Regions from separate parts of the Homo sapiens genome. Here regions 1, 2 and 3 are each reported to be linked to region 4. Evidence: microRNA targets listed by miRTarBase, many of them from high-throughput screens and not tested one by one. Region 4 holds a microRNA gene; each other region holds the end of a gene's coding sequence.

Region 1 (4,000 bases), not on the chromosome of region 4:
TTTTTTTTTTTTTTTTTTTTCGAGACTCAGTTTCATTCTGTCACTCAGGCTGGAGTACAATGACATGGTCTCAGCTCACCGTAACCTCCGCCTCCCGGATTCAAGTGATTCTTCCGCCTCAGCCTCCTGAGTAGCTGGAACTACAGGCGTGTGCCACCACACATGGCTAATTTTTGTATTTTTAGTAGAGACGGGGTTTCACTATGGTGGCCAGGCTGGTCTCAAACTCCTGACCTCGTGATCTGCCTGCCTCCAAAAGTGCTGGGATTACAGGCGTGAGCCACTGCGCCTGGCCCTCTTCTGTCTCACAGCAAAGTTCAACTCTTATATGTAGTTATCATTTTAGAAAGAAGGAAACTTAGGTCCAGAGATCTGAAGGGTGAAAAAGGCAACATAACTGGTTCAGGGTCACACAGCTGGGAACACCAGGCTGAAACATCTTGTTGGCCAGTCTTGTGCTTCTGAAAGTCATGACAGCAGAGGAGCAATGCAGTCCTCCCGCCCTTGACTGGGCAACTCCAAGGCTGCACCTATTAACAGAGCTCGAAGACCAAGCCCCTGGCAGCCTGTTTGTGATAGGGTGCAGTGTCAAGAGTGGGCCAAAACCCACAAGATGGCCAAATTCTCCTACCTCCTACTGCAGGGGTGGCTGCCCAAGAGCATCATCAACCAGGTCCTGTCCCAGACCCAGGTGGATTTTGCCAACCACCTGCGCAAGCGCCTGGAGTCCCACCCTGCCTCTGAAGCCAGGTGTTGAAGACCAGCCTGCTGTTCCCAACTGTGCCCAGCTGCACTGGTACACACGCTCATCAGGAGAATCCCTACTGGAAGCCTGCAAGTCTAAGATCTCCATCTGGTGACAGTGGGATGGGTGGGGTTCGTGTTTAGAGTATGACACTAGGATTCAGATTGGTGAAAGTTTTTAGTACCAAGAAAACAGGGATGAGGCTCTTGGATTAAAAGGTAACTTCATTCACTGATTAGCTATGACATGAGGGTTCAGGCCCCTAAAATAATTGTAAAACTTTTTTTCTGGGCCCTTATGTACCCACCTAAAACCATCTTTAAAATGCTAGTGGCTGATATGGGTGTGGGGGATGCTAACCACAGGGCCTGAGAAGTCTTGCTTTATGGGCTCAAGAATGCCATGCGCTGGCAGTACATGTGCACAAAGCAGAATCTCAGAGGGTCTCCTGCAGCCCTCTGCTCCTCCCGGCCGCTGCACAGCAACACCACAGAACAAGCAGCACCCCACAGTGGGTGCCTTCCAGAAATATAGTCCAAGCTTTCTCTGTGGAAAAAGACAAAACTCATTAGTAGACATGTTTCCCTATTGCTTTCATAGGCACCAGTCAGAATAAAGAATCATAATTCACACAAACATCAGTCTTTGTTTTAATATTGTACTGTTAAAAAAATCTATGCAGCTGGGTGCAGTGGCTCACGCCTGTAATCCCAGCATTTTGGGAGGCTGAGGTAGGCGGATCACAAGGTCAGGAGATCGAGACCATCCTGGCCAACATGGTGAAACCCCGTCTCTACTAAAATACAAAAAATTAGCTGGGTGTGGTGGCGCAAACCTGTAGTCGTAGCTACTTGGGAGGCTGAGGCAGGGGAATCACTTGAACCCCGGAGGCGGAGGTTGTAGTGGGCCGAGATTGTGCCACTGCGCTCCAGCGTGGGCGACAGAGTGAGACTCCATCTCAAAAAAAAAAAAAAAAAAATCTATGCTAGTAGATTACAACTTCACACTAGAGGAGTTCTGGACAAAGCTTTTAATTAGTCAAACTAAATTAAGGCTCATTAAAAGGAAAGGAACTACTGGGAAATTATGCAATTCAATAATTTAGACTCTGTTACCAGGATCTTTCATAAAAATTTAATTTCCATAATCATAACCTAAATGAGTTCTTAAAGAATTCTATAAGCAATAGCTGATTAATGGGCCCTGGAAGATGAAGATTATAACTGTTTATTTACCTAATTAAAAGGAAAGGCAGTGCCAAATATGAGAGGATAAACAATATTAGTTAACATTTCTGTTATTTATGATGCCAATTAGTAGTAAGATAATTCCACAGCTGTCAACTTTGTTTGGGGCTGGCAACTTCTCTGCTTAAACAGGCTAAAAGTTTAGTATTCTGGGAGAAGTGGCTGGAAGAAGGGGTAATATGGTGAAAGCAAATTCCCTTTCCCAGGAGTCAAGAGAATTTATGTGAGGTGGCTCCCGCCTGTAATCTCAGCACTTTGGGAGGCCAAGGCAGGCAATCACCTGAGGGCAGGAGACCAGCCTGACTAACATGGAGAAACCCCATCTCTACTAAAAATACAAAATGAGCTGGGCGTGGTGGTGCATGCCTGTAATCCCAGCTACTTGGGAGGCTGAGGCAGGAGAATCGCCTGAACCCGGGAGGCGGAGGTTGAAGTGAGCCAAGATCGAGCCACTGTACTCCAGCCTGGGCGACAGAGCGAGGCTGTCTTAAAAAAAAAAAAAAAATTATACACACACACACACACACACACACACACACACACACATTGGGATGGGAGGGGGGTAGGGAGGATGAAAAAATCACCATTACCACCTGAAGCTTTTCCATTCTTGTTTTAATAGCATTGATGATTTGCACCATTTGGAGATAGAGCTCTGGCTTATTTATTATAAAACAGGAGCTGGGCACAGTGGTGCCTACCCACAATGCCAGCTACTCTGAAGGCTGAGGTGGGAGAATTGCTGGAGGGCAATTCGAAACCAGTCTGGGCAAGATAGTGAGACCTCATCTCAAAAAAAAAAAAAGAAGGAAAAAACAAAGGAGTTGATGAAACCAAATTATGACAAACTAAATTAAAAAATTAAAAAATAGCATTAGTGGGAACACTGTGGTATTTCCTGAGGTATTAAAATTTTACAACTAGTAAAGGTATTTATTATAATTTATTCGGATTGTTTCTTAGTTTATTTTTGACATGGATAAAATTATTGTTTATCTAGGAGCCTCAGAGTTGAGAGAGGATAGTTGTAGAGAAGTATTTCTAAAATGGAATTATCATCCACTACCAGCTAAGAGAAAATAGTTACTTGTTTAAAGATACCTTAAAGCAACATATATTGTAGTTTCAAGAGAACAGGCTGACAGTCAAGAAATAGGCTTTTAACAAACCCACTGGTTTGCTGGATTCTAATTGCCTCCTTCAAACTATGTAATTGTGTCTTTCTGGTTTCTGTGGAGATATTTTCCCACTTGTTTAATTTTACACTGGAATAAAACAAGTTATCACTGTTGATCTGATTACAGAAACTATTTTATATAGGACGCTGTGAAGAGTAGATATTCTCTGAGCCCTTCAAATGAACTGTATTAAAACACACACACACTTTTGAAGTTTGAGAAGAACATCATTACCTGTAACCTTTGATTTGTGAAAATATATACAAAAAGCTAATTTTATAATTTAGATGGAGAGTGTGTATACAACTTATATGTGGTAATTTATATTACAAAGAGTTAACATTCAGCTTCCTCTAAATAACACCACCCTCATTTTCTTGGAGTACCTCAAACTCCGATGATCTAGAAGCTTTATAACCAGGTCTGCCCTTGAAGACTAGTTCACGCATTAATAGGTGTCTAGGGCTGAGCCTCAGCCTCCAATCACACTCGACCTGTATAGGCTTTCCTGTTCAGAGATATGCAGTGGCCAAATCAAAGTGTCTGGGTGATTCATCGGGAGACAAATATATTAATCAATGCTACTATGTTAAAATACCAATATTGTCTTGAAGTGTGGGAACTCTCTTAAACAGGAAAATGATAAGATATTCAGAAGAGCCACAGGCATAACATGGTGATTCTGCAGCAGCATGTCACCCTCCAGTGGTGAGCCACTCTACTTATTAACCGAGGTAGAGAGGTAAATGCAGGAGGGACTTTGGGCAATCCTGGGAGGGCTGTCTTTGCCGTAAGACTGATGTATTGAAAAAAGGAAGACAGGCCGGGTG
Region 2 (4,000 bases), not on the chromosome of region 4:
CTGGCCACTCTCAAGGGGCTGGTAGCCCAGATGTCTGATGGAGGAAGCGCCAAATCAGTCTTTGGTAACAACATGGATAAAGGCCTGGGTGGGAGGGGTAGAGAGGCTGACAAAGGCTTCCTGAGGGAGGGCCCAGTCTGAGAGGGAAGTACCTTCTCCCCAAGACTGATGATTTAAATTCTGACCTGCCCTTTGCATGATACCTTCCCAGCCTGGGAGAACTTGTTGCTCAGTAAGCAGACCCAGGTGCTGGCCTCTGTACCCACCATGGCCTCTGCCCTCATCACGACCTCTACCCCCAGGAAAGCTGATGGGCATGAATGAGATCACAGAGAAACTCATGCTGCCAGACACCTGTCGGAGTGACCACATTGTGGTGCAGAAAGTGACTGCCACTGCCAACCTGGGTCGTGTTCCTTGTGGGACATCTGATGAGTACAGGTACTAGGCCACCAGTAGAGGGGAAATGATGAGCATGGGGGCCCTGGTTTGAAGGAGGAGCCCCAGCTGCTGATCCCCTTCCAAACACAGTCACCCTTAGCAGCTCTTCCTCACCCCTTCTATTCCCACCTCAGGTTTGCAGGGAGGACACTGACTGGTGGAAGCCTCGTTCTGCTGACCCTGGATGCCCGGCCAGCTGGAGCTGCCCAGCTGACTGTCAACAGCGAGAAAATGGTGATTGGCACCATGCTGGTAAAGGATGTGATACAGGCTCTGACCCAGTGACTTCCAAATGCTGTGACCTGTTTGGCTCCCATCTATACCTCCCCATGACACCTAGGCTGTCAGTCTCTCTCATCTTTCTCTCTCTCTCTCATCATCCTCCTCATGCCAGATAGCATTCAGGGTGTCCTCTCTCCCTCTGGAGGACCAAGCCCTCCCCTAATGCCCTCCCCATGGATTCCTTAGTGATCTGTGCAGAGAGAGATGGCAGCCACTCCCTTCAGTCCTCCCAGATTTCTGTAGCTATTTATGTAGCAGGCTCAATAAAATGTCTTCTCTCTAGCTGCTGGCTCACCTTTCCTTCTAGGGGTTTGTCAGGAACAACTCTTGTTGAATCCCCAAGGTAACCATCTCTGGGTCAGGATGCCTAGGAGTCTGCAGGCATCTCTGTGGAAGAGACATCTGGGCTGGGGTGGCAAGGCAGAGCTGGAAGAGCACCTTGGTCCTTTTTATAGCCTCTGCAAAAACAAGTCCTCTTCAATGGCTGGCAGACCCCCTTAGTTCTTCTTACGGTCCCTTGGGAAGGAAGGACTCATAACATGGGGACTTCCCCAAACACAGGTGCTCAGTTCAACATATGTCAACTACTCCAGTTAGGGGGCCTGGAGGCCCCACCTGGCTGGGGTACTGACCCACTGGTCATCTTAGTGGAAGAATAGAAGATGCATAACTGTACTTCTCAAACCACTTTGTGGCAAGTCACCTGGGGATCCCATCACATGCAGATTCTATTAGTAGGTCTAGGGTGGGGTCTGAAATTCTGCATTTTTTTTTTAAGTGAAAGCAGCCGGGCGTGGTGGCTCACACCTGTAATCCCAGCACTTTGGGAGGCTGAGGTGGGCCAATCACGAGGTCAAGACCAACATGGCCAACATGGCGAAATCCCATCTGTACTAAAGATACAAAAAATTAGCTGGGCATGGTGGTGCGCACCTGTAATCCCAGCTACTTGGGAGGCTGAGGCAGGAGAATCGCTTGAACCCAGGAGGCAGAGGTTGCAGTGAGCTGAGATCGTGCCATTACACTCTAGCCTGGACGACAGGGTGAGACTCTGTCTCAAGATAATAATAACAATAATAATAATAATGTGAAAGCAAATTTATTAAGAAACAACAGAATGGCGACTCCATAGGCAGAGCAGCAGATTCTGTATTTGTAACAAGACACCAGCATCTGCTCACACCTGGAACAAACCTGGTGGGTGCAGTGGGGGTCAGGGCTCTCCCTGACACCTTTTCTGGTGAAGAAAGAGGCTGAGTGAGCAGTGGTTCTAAAACGTATAAAAGGTGTTCCATTAGGATGTGTTCTGTACCCTCCCGCCCCCTGCAAAGTCTATGATCAAATAAGTTTAGGAATCTTGGATTTAAGTGAAATAAGTTCATTTCCTACAGGTCTTCTCAGAACTTTTACTATGCTAATGTACACTGTGACCACCTCTCAGCCTGCAGTGTTACTCAAACTTGGTTTTGATTTTGGAACACTTTCCTCACAACATCTTGATTGACTGGGTTACAAGGAACACACTCCAGTTAGTTTGAGATGTTGAACCTCAGCCTCTGATCCTCTGTGACCAAGACTTTAGGCCCTTGGCCATACTGTCCCTCAGCCCTGCCACTTAGGCATCCCTGAGCATGTCTGTTCATGGGTAAGATGGGGTGAAGCAGGTGTGGCTGTCCTCTCACAGAAGGAGAACAAAGGCAGTGCCAGGGGACAGCCCTGCCTCTGGCTCCAGGGACTTGCTGGGCACTGTGACACCAGAGAGCTGCTGGAGCTGCTGCTTCCCTGAGAGCCTGGGGCCCCAAAGTCTCCCTGGGATCACTGTTTTTGTCACTGCAGATTCTGAGATGGTCCTCCAGTCAAAAGTAAGATTCAGTCTTACTTTTGCCTCTGAATCAGCACTACCCACAGCACTGAGAGAGGGTGAGGGTGATTTTCTAAGAAATTTGAACAAGGACCATCAGAGAATCCCTTACCCACCTTTATTCTATATCAAAAGCCCCAGAGTAGAGCTGGGCATGTGTCTGTAGTCCCAGCTACTCAGAAGGCTGAGACTGGAGAACTGCTTGAGGCCAGGAGTTCAGGGCTGTATTGCACTATTATTACACCTGTGAATAGCACTCTATCCTGGACAACCTAGCAAGACCCTACCTCTAAAAAAAAATCCCCTTTTAAAAAAATGGGATTCTGTAGGAACCAGAAGTGCAAAAGGCAAGTCCCACAACATTCCTCAAGTACAGTCCAGGTTCCCAGAACCTCTTGGAAAGGGCACTGGGATTTCCAACCCTGAGAGTCCAGAGAGTTGGAACCTTCACGGCTCTGTGTTGGTGTCTCTGGAATGTGTCCCAGGCTTTGGCATTAGCAGTAGCAACTCTTCATAAGGAAATGGTTCTGGTGTTTGACCAAAGAGAGAGGCAGGAAGCAGGAGAGCAAGGTGTGGGCAGGGGAGAGTATGACTGCAGAAGGAGCCCAGCGGGGAGTGGTGTGCTGCTGGTGAAGGCTGGGCTGGGAGATTGGTGGGGCAGCAATTTCCCACCCAGGAGGAGCATGGGGCCTGTTCTGTGCTGAGTGAACGGTCTGGAGTGAGAGAATCTCAGTCACAGAGGAAGGGGGAGTGGTTGCCCCAGCTCTCGTTCCAGCCCAGCCCATCTCTTCCAAGGCCATACCTCCCACAACCCTACCACATGAGCATACCTGAGCGAGTGTGCAGGGATAAGATGGGGGCCTGCCCAGCACACACAGGTGGAAGCAGGTCAGACCTGCAGGGGCTGGGGGCCCCCACATCCCCCGGGGGCATTTTCCCCAACCCATATCGTATTCTGTATTTTATCACTGGCCCAAGTCTTTGCCACTGTGGTGACACTTTGTCCCCAGGTTATTAGGGGCCTGGTCACAGAGTGTCTGGATCTCAGTTGGCAGGGAAAATGCTTCCCATGAACAGCCTTTTTTTTTTTTTCTTTTTTTTTGGGAGACAGAGTCTTGCTCTGTTGCCCAGGTTGGAGTGCGGTGGCACAATCTCCGCTCACTGCAACCTCCGCCTCCTGGGTTCAAGCAATTCTCGTGCCTCAGCCTCCTGAGTAGCTGGGATTAGGGATTACAGGCGTGTGCCACCACGTTTGGCTAATTTTTATATTTTTAGTAGAGACGGGGTTTCGCCATGTTGGTCAGGCTGGTCTCGAACTCCTGACTCGTGATCTGCCTGCCTTGGCCTCCCAAAGTGCTGGGATTATAGGCGTGAGACACTGCACTCAGCCTAATTTTTTGTATTTTTAGTAGAGAT
Region 3 (4,000 bases), not on the chromosome of region 4:
TCTGTGACATCAATTCACCACTAAAACCCTTGATCTTTCTCTAAATAATAGATGTTAATTTGAGTTTAATGCATGGCTTTGAACATCTTAAGTTTATGAACTGGTACCTAAAATATCAAACTGTCCTGCTTTTGAAAAATCACTTTTATCACTATTTAAATCTCTACACAGATTCACCAGGCATGTAAACTCATCTGCAGAAAATGTAAACGTCATGTGACAGATCTAACAGGGCAAGTGGTACAGGAGGGAACCAGGCGCTACAGACTGTGTAATGAGTGTCTTGCAGAATTTGGCATAGACAGCCTCCCCATTGACTTGGAAGCTGAACAACATCTTATGTCCCCATCAGATGGAGATAAGGATTCCAGATGGCACTTGAGTGAAGATGAGAATAGATCCTATGTGGAGATTGTAGAAGATGGGTCTGCTGATCTGGTCATCCAACAGGTTGATGATAGTGAAGAAGAAGAAGAAAAAGAAATTAAGCCCAACATTAGGTAGCTGTAATGTGAACCAACAGAGCTGGCATGTCTGCAATTTACATTGACTTCCTGTATCTCTCTCTTTCTATGGTCGGAGTCTAGTTAACAAATTTATCACACTGACTTTAAAGAAATGATCTGATATAACTTGCATGCTTTCTGAACAGGCCATTGTATCCATTCTGAACTTTGTTGCCCTAAAATGTGTTGCTGCACTGGAAAGAAAGAACTAGCTTGAGTTGGCTTGATGGATGAACAATTATCCTCTTACTTTCATTACAATCCTCTTACTTTATTCCAGAGATACCTTTTTCTTTTAATATTGGAGGATCTACTTAGCAAACTTTTTTCAAAGAAAATACTTTAAATAAATTCACCACAACCAAACTTTATGTAAGACAATTTCAAGGTGTTTCAAAAACACATAACTACCAATGTTTAATTTCACAGGGAACCAGTTAAGAGCACATTTAAGGATCTGGCAACCCACCTTACTAAACAAATTAGTCTTTCTATTAATTTGAGATCTGAAACAACCTGTCATTACTCTGATATCCTGAACGTTTAAGGATTATGGAAGAAGACTAAAGTGTTTGAAATCATTCATATTTGAAATTTTTATCATTAGCTTAAAAATTACTCTCAGTATTGTTAAAAAAAAAAAAAAGTAGAGGCTGGCCAAAGATTATATACAGATATTTTCTTAAAGCAGGAAACTAATGTTGCCTAAAAGTCAAGGTAGTTTGTGAAGACAATCTGTCAATATGGTTGTCCATCTCTCTAAAGAAAAGCAGGCTGGGCGCTGTGGCTCATGCCTATAATCCCAATACTTTGGGAGGCCGAGGCAGGCGGATCACAAGGTCAGGAGTTTGAAACCAGCCTGGCCAACATGGTGAAACCTCGTCTCTACTAAAAAATACAAAATTAGCCGGGCATGGTGGCGGGTGCCTATAATCCCAGCTACTCGGGAGGCTGAGGCAGGAGAATCGATTGAACCTGGAAGGCAGAAGTTGCAGTGAGCCGAGATCACACCATTGCACTCCAGCCTGGGCAACAAGAGCGAAACTCCGTCTCAAAAAAAAAAGGAAAACAAACTAGGAGGTTCTTACCATATGTGAGTGATTTCTAACGTTTATGTAGTGCTATATTATTTATAAAGTACTCTCTCATGTATTTTCTCAGTGAGGTGGATACTATCTCCGATTTACAAATGAGGAAATTAAGGTCAGAAAGTCTGAGAGAGAAAACTGATGATTGGACAGGATCTGATTTTAAACAATCCTCTTTCAGCCTTCTCTCCCTGTATGTCTCCTGAAATGGCAAAGAATAGAAGTCAAACCTCACCAGTTGGCAGTCATTATAAAAATAAGCCAATCAGAATTAGAAAGTATGAAAGGAGGAATTGAATCATTTTCAACAACATACAATATCTTGATCTAGAGATTTTCAAATAATGCTAAGTAATGTCCCTACAGTACCTATTGGTATGTTTTTATGTCACGTTATTTATATGTAAATTTAAAGTATAAAACTATTTGAACAAATTATTCACTTAAATATGTTGAACATTTTTGCTTCTCTTGTTTATATAATATTTTCAAAACAAACTTTTCTCCTAGTATACAAAGTTTAAACTTCTCCCCTTTGGGCTGGGCCCAGTGGCTCACGCCTGTAATCCCAGCACTTTGGGAGGCTGAGGCAGGTGGATCACCGAGGTCGGGAGTTTGAGACCAGCCTGACCAACATGGAGAAACCCCGTCTCTACTAAAAATACAAAATTAGCCGGGCGTGGTGGTGCATGCCTGTAATCCCAGCTACTCAGAAGGCTGAGGCAGGAGGATAGCTTGAACCCAGGAGGCAGAGGCTGCGGTGGGCTGAGGTTGCGCCATTGCACTCCAGCCTGGGCAACAAGAGCGAAACTCCGTCTCAAAAAAAAAAAAAAAAAAAACTTCTCCCCTGCATAAATTATGAAACATTCCAAAATTACAGCTAAATTAGAGAAGCATTGTTTCAGTTCTAAAGGTAAAATCTAAATATCCGAAGTAAAGAACTGAGCTTCATAAAGGTCTCTTCTGCAAGTTATCACAGTGAAGCTTGATAGAATTTCACTGTATATGGAGAGGCTCCATCTATTTTACTGTTTTCTTTTTTGTTTTTGTTTTTTTTTCGAGACGGAGTCTCGCTCTGTCGCCCAGGCTGGAGTGCAGTGGTGCAATCTCAGCTCACTGCAAGCTCCACCTCCCGGGTTCTCGCCATTCTCCTGCCTCAGCCTCCCGAGTAGCTGGGACTTACAGGCGCCCACCACCACTCCCAGCTAATTTTTTGTATTTTTAATAGAGATGGGGTTTCACCGTGTTAGCCAGGATGGTCTCAATCTCCTGATCTCGTGATCCGCCCCCCTCGGCCTCCCAAAGTGCTGGGATTACAGGCGTGAGCCACTGCGCCCAGCCAATTTTACTGTATTTTTAAATGCCATGACATACCTCAAAATTATCCTTTTTATGTTACTATTTTCTCTTGTTCTTTCATTAATTATTGTCCTTGATACCAATTTCTAGGCTAAATTGGTTACTTTCTTTTAAAAAATTTAAAAATAGATGAATAACCACTTGTTTCATGGTACTTAATTGAGACTTTTTCAAGATTCCCCTGATGGCACATTTGCAGTTGCTTCAAGACTGGATGATGTGCATTGAGTTCTCTGTTCTCCCAACATGGCTGTTCCTAAATCAGGATTCTGGTTTTTTTGAGATGGACTCTCGCTCTGTTGTCCAAGCTGGAGTGCAGTGGCGTGATCTCGCTCACCACAACCTCTGCCTCCCGGGTTCAAGCGATTCTCCTGCCTCAGCCTCCTGAGTAGCCGGGACTACAGGCATGTGCCACCATGCCTGGCTAATTTTTGTATTTTTAGTAGAGACAGGGTTTCGCTATGTTGGCCAGGCTGGTCTCGAACTCCTGACCTCGTGATCTGCCCGCCTCAGCCTCCCAAAGTGCTGGGATTACAGGCGTGAGCCAGCACGCCCGGCCTAAATCAGGATTCTTAACAATTAAAGTGTATCTGAATGAGGAAGGAAACGCTTGTCATTCTCTAGTCTTACCCAATTAATACTGACACCTTTTGAAATTAAAACCTGATTTTTTAGTTGTTGGAGCCAGTAGGAAAAATGGCTGATTTGAACTTTTTTCCTATAAATGAAGTAGTGCTTGCATGTGTGTACTCTAATGCACTTTAGTCTATGATCTAAATGTCCTTTTATGCTATTATCTTCTGCATGCAAACTTTACATACATCAGCATGAATATCCAACATTCACTGAACACAGTGCCACCAGCACTTGTAATTGCCTTTTCAGAAATAATGCTTTCTCATAATTGTTTATAACGAGCATCAAACTATCCCCACAAAATGATCAAGTTCACCAAACTAGACAAAGAATCTGTTGTATCATTTTAACATCATAGAAGAACATTTAAGACATGTTTGTAAGTTGTAAATAATGACTCCAGTTATAGCA
Region 4 (4,300 bases):
TGGGGAAGTCTAGGCACCTAATACCTCCACTAGATAGGAAGTCCCGGAGAGAGACACTGTCCATTATTTAGCAGGGTACTCCCAGCACAGCTCATGGCACATCAAAAGTGCGCAATAAACACGGGCTACTTGGATTGTTCAGCAGAAGATTCACGATGACAAGGCTCACCCTCCTGTAATCCATGCACACAGGAGGTGTTTTGAGAATTCACAACTCCGATATGCAATGGGTATGGGAGAAGGAGCAGTTCATTCTTCTGCACATGGGAGGGGGGTGGGGGAGGAGAGAGAAAGAAAGACAGAAAGAGAGAAAGAGAGAGAGAGGAGAGAGATTGATTGATTGATTGAGAGAGAGACAGATTGAGATTAAAGTGTCAGGTGCACGCCTGGAGAAGCAGTGCCAAGTCTATTCCCTAATAAAGTACTTGTTGTGTGTTCACTTAGCCTCATGTGCTCACTGAATGTGTGGTTATGGAGGAGGTGGAGACAGTAATGAAATGATGGCTTCCCTGCCACAGTCTGCATGGACTCGGCATTGGGAACGTACATGAGCAATGCAGGAGCTCATTCTCTTCCACCCTTCACCTGACTAGCTTATCACTGCCCCTAGCTAGCACTTATACTAAATCAGTGATTCTCAAACTTAAGTGAGCATCAGAATCAGTTGAGAGCCTTGGTAAAGTACAGATTTCCATGGTTTATGGTGTAGTAGGTCAGGGATGAGCCCAAGAATTGGCATTTTGAACAAGCTCCTAGGTGATACAGATGCTGCTGGCCCAGGGACCACACTGAGAACCACTGCTCTATACATAACTTAAAGAAATGAAATAATGGGACATAGAGGGGTGATGCAAAGACTCTACACTTTTAAACATGGATGAGATTCCCTCTCTGAATTTTTGTACAAGGCAATGGACTGGAATAGCATTTGTACCCAACTACGAAGAATGAAAGAGAGGGACAACCTGAATAGAAGGCTCGAGCATCTTCAAATCCATTGTGTTTGTGTGTATGTACAAAAGAAACAGCACTCTCTGGCTCACAGGTGATTTTCCTATGACCATACAAAGGTGAAGTGTCTTTTCTTCATATGCATGTGTGAGATGACTGACAAGTAGGGCCACTTTCCTTCAAGCTCTGGTGGCATAAGCAGCAAGTAGAAAGCCTATTGCCTTGCACACCAGACATGAGTGAGAAGATGCTGCTAATGACACTCATTATCCTATGCACACTGTGGCTGCAGCTCTGTGTAAGGGGAGACACACCTTTTGTAGTTCTCTAGCTGAGCACTGTTGGGGGGTTGGAGAGGGGATGATGGGAAGACTCACTCTCTGCTACATACGTATGCATGAACAATGTGGGCAACGGAAGTTCCTTCTCTTAAACATGCTCACTAGGCATGTGAGTATGAGTTCTGTGTCTTTCTTGACCACCCTGTCTCTCCATGTCTGGTGCATGACAGGAGCGCCACCCCTGCTTGTTAAAGGTGGGAATGAATGAAGGATGGGGATTATAAACAGGTGTTCTTCGCTCTATGCAGAAAAGGCTCAGCCGTGGAATGCTTGCCTGGGTGCACCGCATTGACACAGCACTTGCATCCAGGTACCAGGATTCAAGAGGGGGAACAGGACTGAAGGCCCAAGCAGCCATACAGAGTATGTGTGTGTGCACGTGTGCGTGTGTGCACATGTGCTCACATGGGTTTACAGGGAAGGCTCACCGCATATAGTGTGTTCATCTGTGACTGTACAGAAAAGTAATGAAAGGATCTCTCCTATACAGAGCAGCAAGAAGGAAAGTAGCAGTAAGAAGACTTCCCTCATTTAATCCCCATCTATAAGGGAGTTAAGGAAGCTCACTGGCTTGCACGCTGAGAATGGGAGAGAGGAGAGCACAACAGGCTCCATCTCCTACCCTTTCAGTAGGTGGGGTTCTCTGCATGCAGGGCCATGTCTCTGAGTGTGTCTGGTGTACAAGGATTGGGGACATTTGAGAATTTCACTTGAGCAGAACCTGCACATGCTTGTGCATGCAGACTGGGTAACAAGGAACATATAGATCTACTTCATTCTTTTGAACAGTGGCCTATTCATCCACAACATTTATGTATAGTGTGTTTATGAGTCCCTACCAGAATGTAGGGTAGCAACCTGTCCATTTTGATCCCTGCTATATCCTTGGTGATGAACATAATACCTGCTGTCTAATAGACACTTGAGTATCTGTGGAAGGAAGAGGAGGGAGAGTTGATGTGCAAAAGCTCTGTCCTTTTAAGTGTAGACAAGGCTTCTTCCCTTGGAATTCTTGAAAAGGGACAGTGAGTCAAGGCAGTACTGGCACACAGGCTGAAAGAATGTGAGTGATGCACCAGGTCAGAGGGACCACTCTGTGAGGACATGTCTCTGTGGATGTAACCAAGTCAGGCCCTTTCTCTTGCACACAGCGTATTTATGTGTGATTGTACTGAGGTTTAGTAGATTCTCCAACATGTATCTGTACCCCACCCACCCTGTACCCCACCCACCCTCAGGACATGCAGATATAATGAATGAGAAGGAGTCCATTCTCCTCCCTGAACTGTACACTCCATGAAGGTAGGGAACCAGATATGGCTCATTCTCTTGTGGGCCAACTGCCCAGGACAGCACCTGCAATAGAGTAGGTAGGTACTCAACAAATAGTCATAGAAAGGATGGAAGGAGGAGGTAGAAGTGCTCTGTCCTATGCGAAGATGTCACTCCCCCTTGCAGAATCCTTGCCTGGGTGCACTGCATTCAGAAAGCACTCTCACCCAGGTAGCAAGGATTAGAGAGGGGGAACCAGGACAGGAGATTCCAGTACCTGTACACCTCACATGTGCATCTAACAAGAAGGCTTGCTGTTCTTGCCTAGTGCATTAACCTTGCATTGAACTAAAGTAGAGAGAAGTTGCTTCGACAAGTATCAGGCTGGGTGCAGTGGCTCACACCTATAATCCCAACACTTTGGGAGGCTAAGGCTGGTGGACTGCTTGAGCCTAGGAGTTTGAGACCAGCTTGGGCAACATAGTGAGACCCCATCTCTACAAAAAATAAACACAAATTAGCCAGGCATGGTGGCACAAGCCTGTGGTCCCAGCTATTTGAGAGGCTGAGGTGGGAGGATCGCTTGAGCCCAGGTGGTTGAGGCTGCAGTGAACTGTGATGGTGCCAGTGCACTCCAGCCTGAGCAACAGAGCAATACTCCATCAAAAAAGAAAGAAAAGAAAAGAGAGAAGAAAAGAAAGGAAAGGAAAGGAAGGAAAGAAAGAAAAGAAAGAGAAAGAAAAAGAAAAGAAGGAAGGAAGGAAAGAAGGAAAAAACAAGAAACAAGTATCAATGTGACAGCAGGAATGAGAAGACTCACACTTATGGGTGGGTTAAGGTGGGAAGAGGGTAGATAAGAAGTTCCTATGTGGCCCACTCACCCTCAGTATATGCAGGGGCAATGAGTGGTGACAAAGTCCATTCTCCTCTCAGGCTATAATATCCAGGAAGGCAGGGGCGAAGTCTGCCTTGTTCATTTCTCTGTGTCCAATGCCCATCATGGTGCCCAATACATATTATTTGTGGAAGGAAAGAATGAATGAGGGTCAGAGAGCAGGCAGGCAAGCAGCAAGCAGCTGAGAGGTGACATACAGATCTTCTGTTCTCCACGCAGAGGGGGCTCACCCTCTCAGAATCCTTGCCCGGGTGCATTGCATTCAGAAAGCACTCTCACCCAGGGACAAAGGATTAGAGAGGAAGAGCAGAGCAGAAGACTCAGGCACCTGCACCCTGCATGTATATCTCCATATATATTTGACTTTCATGGTCCCATTCCTGCAAAGTATCTCTGTGTGCATTTGCTAAGACAGATGCCTCTCCTCAGGGATAGCATATGTATTCATCCCCCTGCACAAGGCCACATGGACATGCCCTCTCAGACAAAACCTCAGACTAGAATGAAAGATATGAGTGGCATCTTTTTCAGATCACACTTGAGGGTCTGCAGGTGCTGGATGTATTTGGGGCCTAGCAAGGAGGTTGGGACAAACTGTATGTGGGCACACATGTACATGCACATGTTGGAAGATGGTACAGAAAATTGGGATACTTCATTCTCTTCTGTTTCTCTGGTAAACTATAAGCTCACTGAGAGCAAAGACTGGCTGTGCAAGTCTCATCACCCAATGTGTGTTTCCCCATTACAGTATCTGACACATAGTAAGCTGGGAGTAAACAGAAAGCTCATGCTCTCAAAGAGGTGTAAGCTTGTCCAGGGCAATGATGAAGTTCATTCT

Evidence for each region. Region 4 holds the annotated microRNA hsa-miR-500b-3p (GCACCCAGGCAAGGAUUCUG, at 2,748-2,767, opposite strand). A microRNA usually pairs through its seed, bases 2 to 8, with sites in the 3' UTR of a target mRNA and lowers its output. Matches are read on the target gene's strand: a 7mer-m8 pairs with bases 2 to 8, a 7mer-A1 pairs with bases 2 to 7 and ends in A, and an 8mer does both.
Region 1: the mRNA of STAR is a reported target of hsa-miR-500b-3p. Seed matches in the 3' UTR shown: 7mer-m8 at 1,428-1,434 and 7mer-m8 at 1,561-1,567.
Region 2: the mRNA of AP3B2 is a reported target of hsa-miR-500b-3p. The part of its 3' UTR that is shown has no 7-base or 8-base seed match.
Region 3: miRTarBase lists ZBTB8A as a target of hsa-miR-500b-3p. The part of its 3' UTR that is shown has no 7-base or 8-base seed match.

The regions. Positions count from the first base shown.
Region 1 is chr8:38,141,030-38,145,029 of GRCh38, reverse strand. STAR (steroidogenic acute regulatory protein) reads left to right here. Exons shown (of 7, transcript NM_000349.3): 7 at 644-2,330. The coding sequence ends at 757. Among named protein-coding and RNA genes, the nearest start is that of STAR, 7.9 kb to the left of the region's middle.
Region 2 is chr15:82,656,286-82,660,285 of GRCh38, reverse strand. AP3B2 (adaptor related protein complex 3 subunit beta 2) reads left to right here. Exons shown (of 27, transcript NM_001278512.2): 26 at 303-441; 27 at 576-1,005. The coding sequence ends at 726. All of the region lies in intron 3 of CPEB1-AS1 (CPEB1 antisense RNA 1), which reads right to left. Among named protein-coding and RNA genes, the nearest start is that of CPEB1-AS1, 11 kb to the right of the region's middle.
Region 3 is chr1:32,599,916-32,603,915 of GRCh38, forward strand. It overlaps ZBTB8A (zinc finger and BTB domain containing 8A), which reads left to right. Exons shown (of 5, transcript NM_001040441.3): 5 at 172-4,000. The coding sequence ends at 504. Among named protein-coding and RNA genes, the nearest start is that of ZBTB8OS, 49 kb to the right of the region's middle.
Region 4 is chrX:50,009,189-50,013,488 of GRCh38, reverse strand. MIR500B (microRNA 500b) reads right to left here and starts at 2,817; the gene lies at 2,739-2,817. The region is part of intron 3 of CLCN5 (chloride voltage-gated channel 5); the gene reads right to left. It overlaps MIR501 (microRNA 501), which reads right to left and starts at 3,767; the gene lies at 3,684-3,767. It overlaps MIR660 (microRNA 660), which reads right to left and starts at 248; the gene lies at 152-248.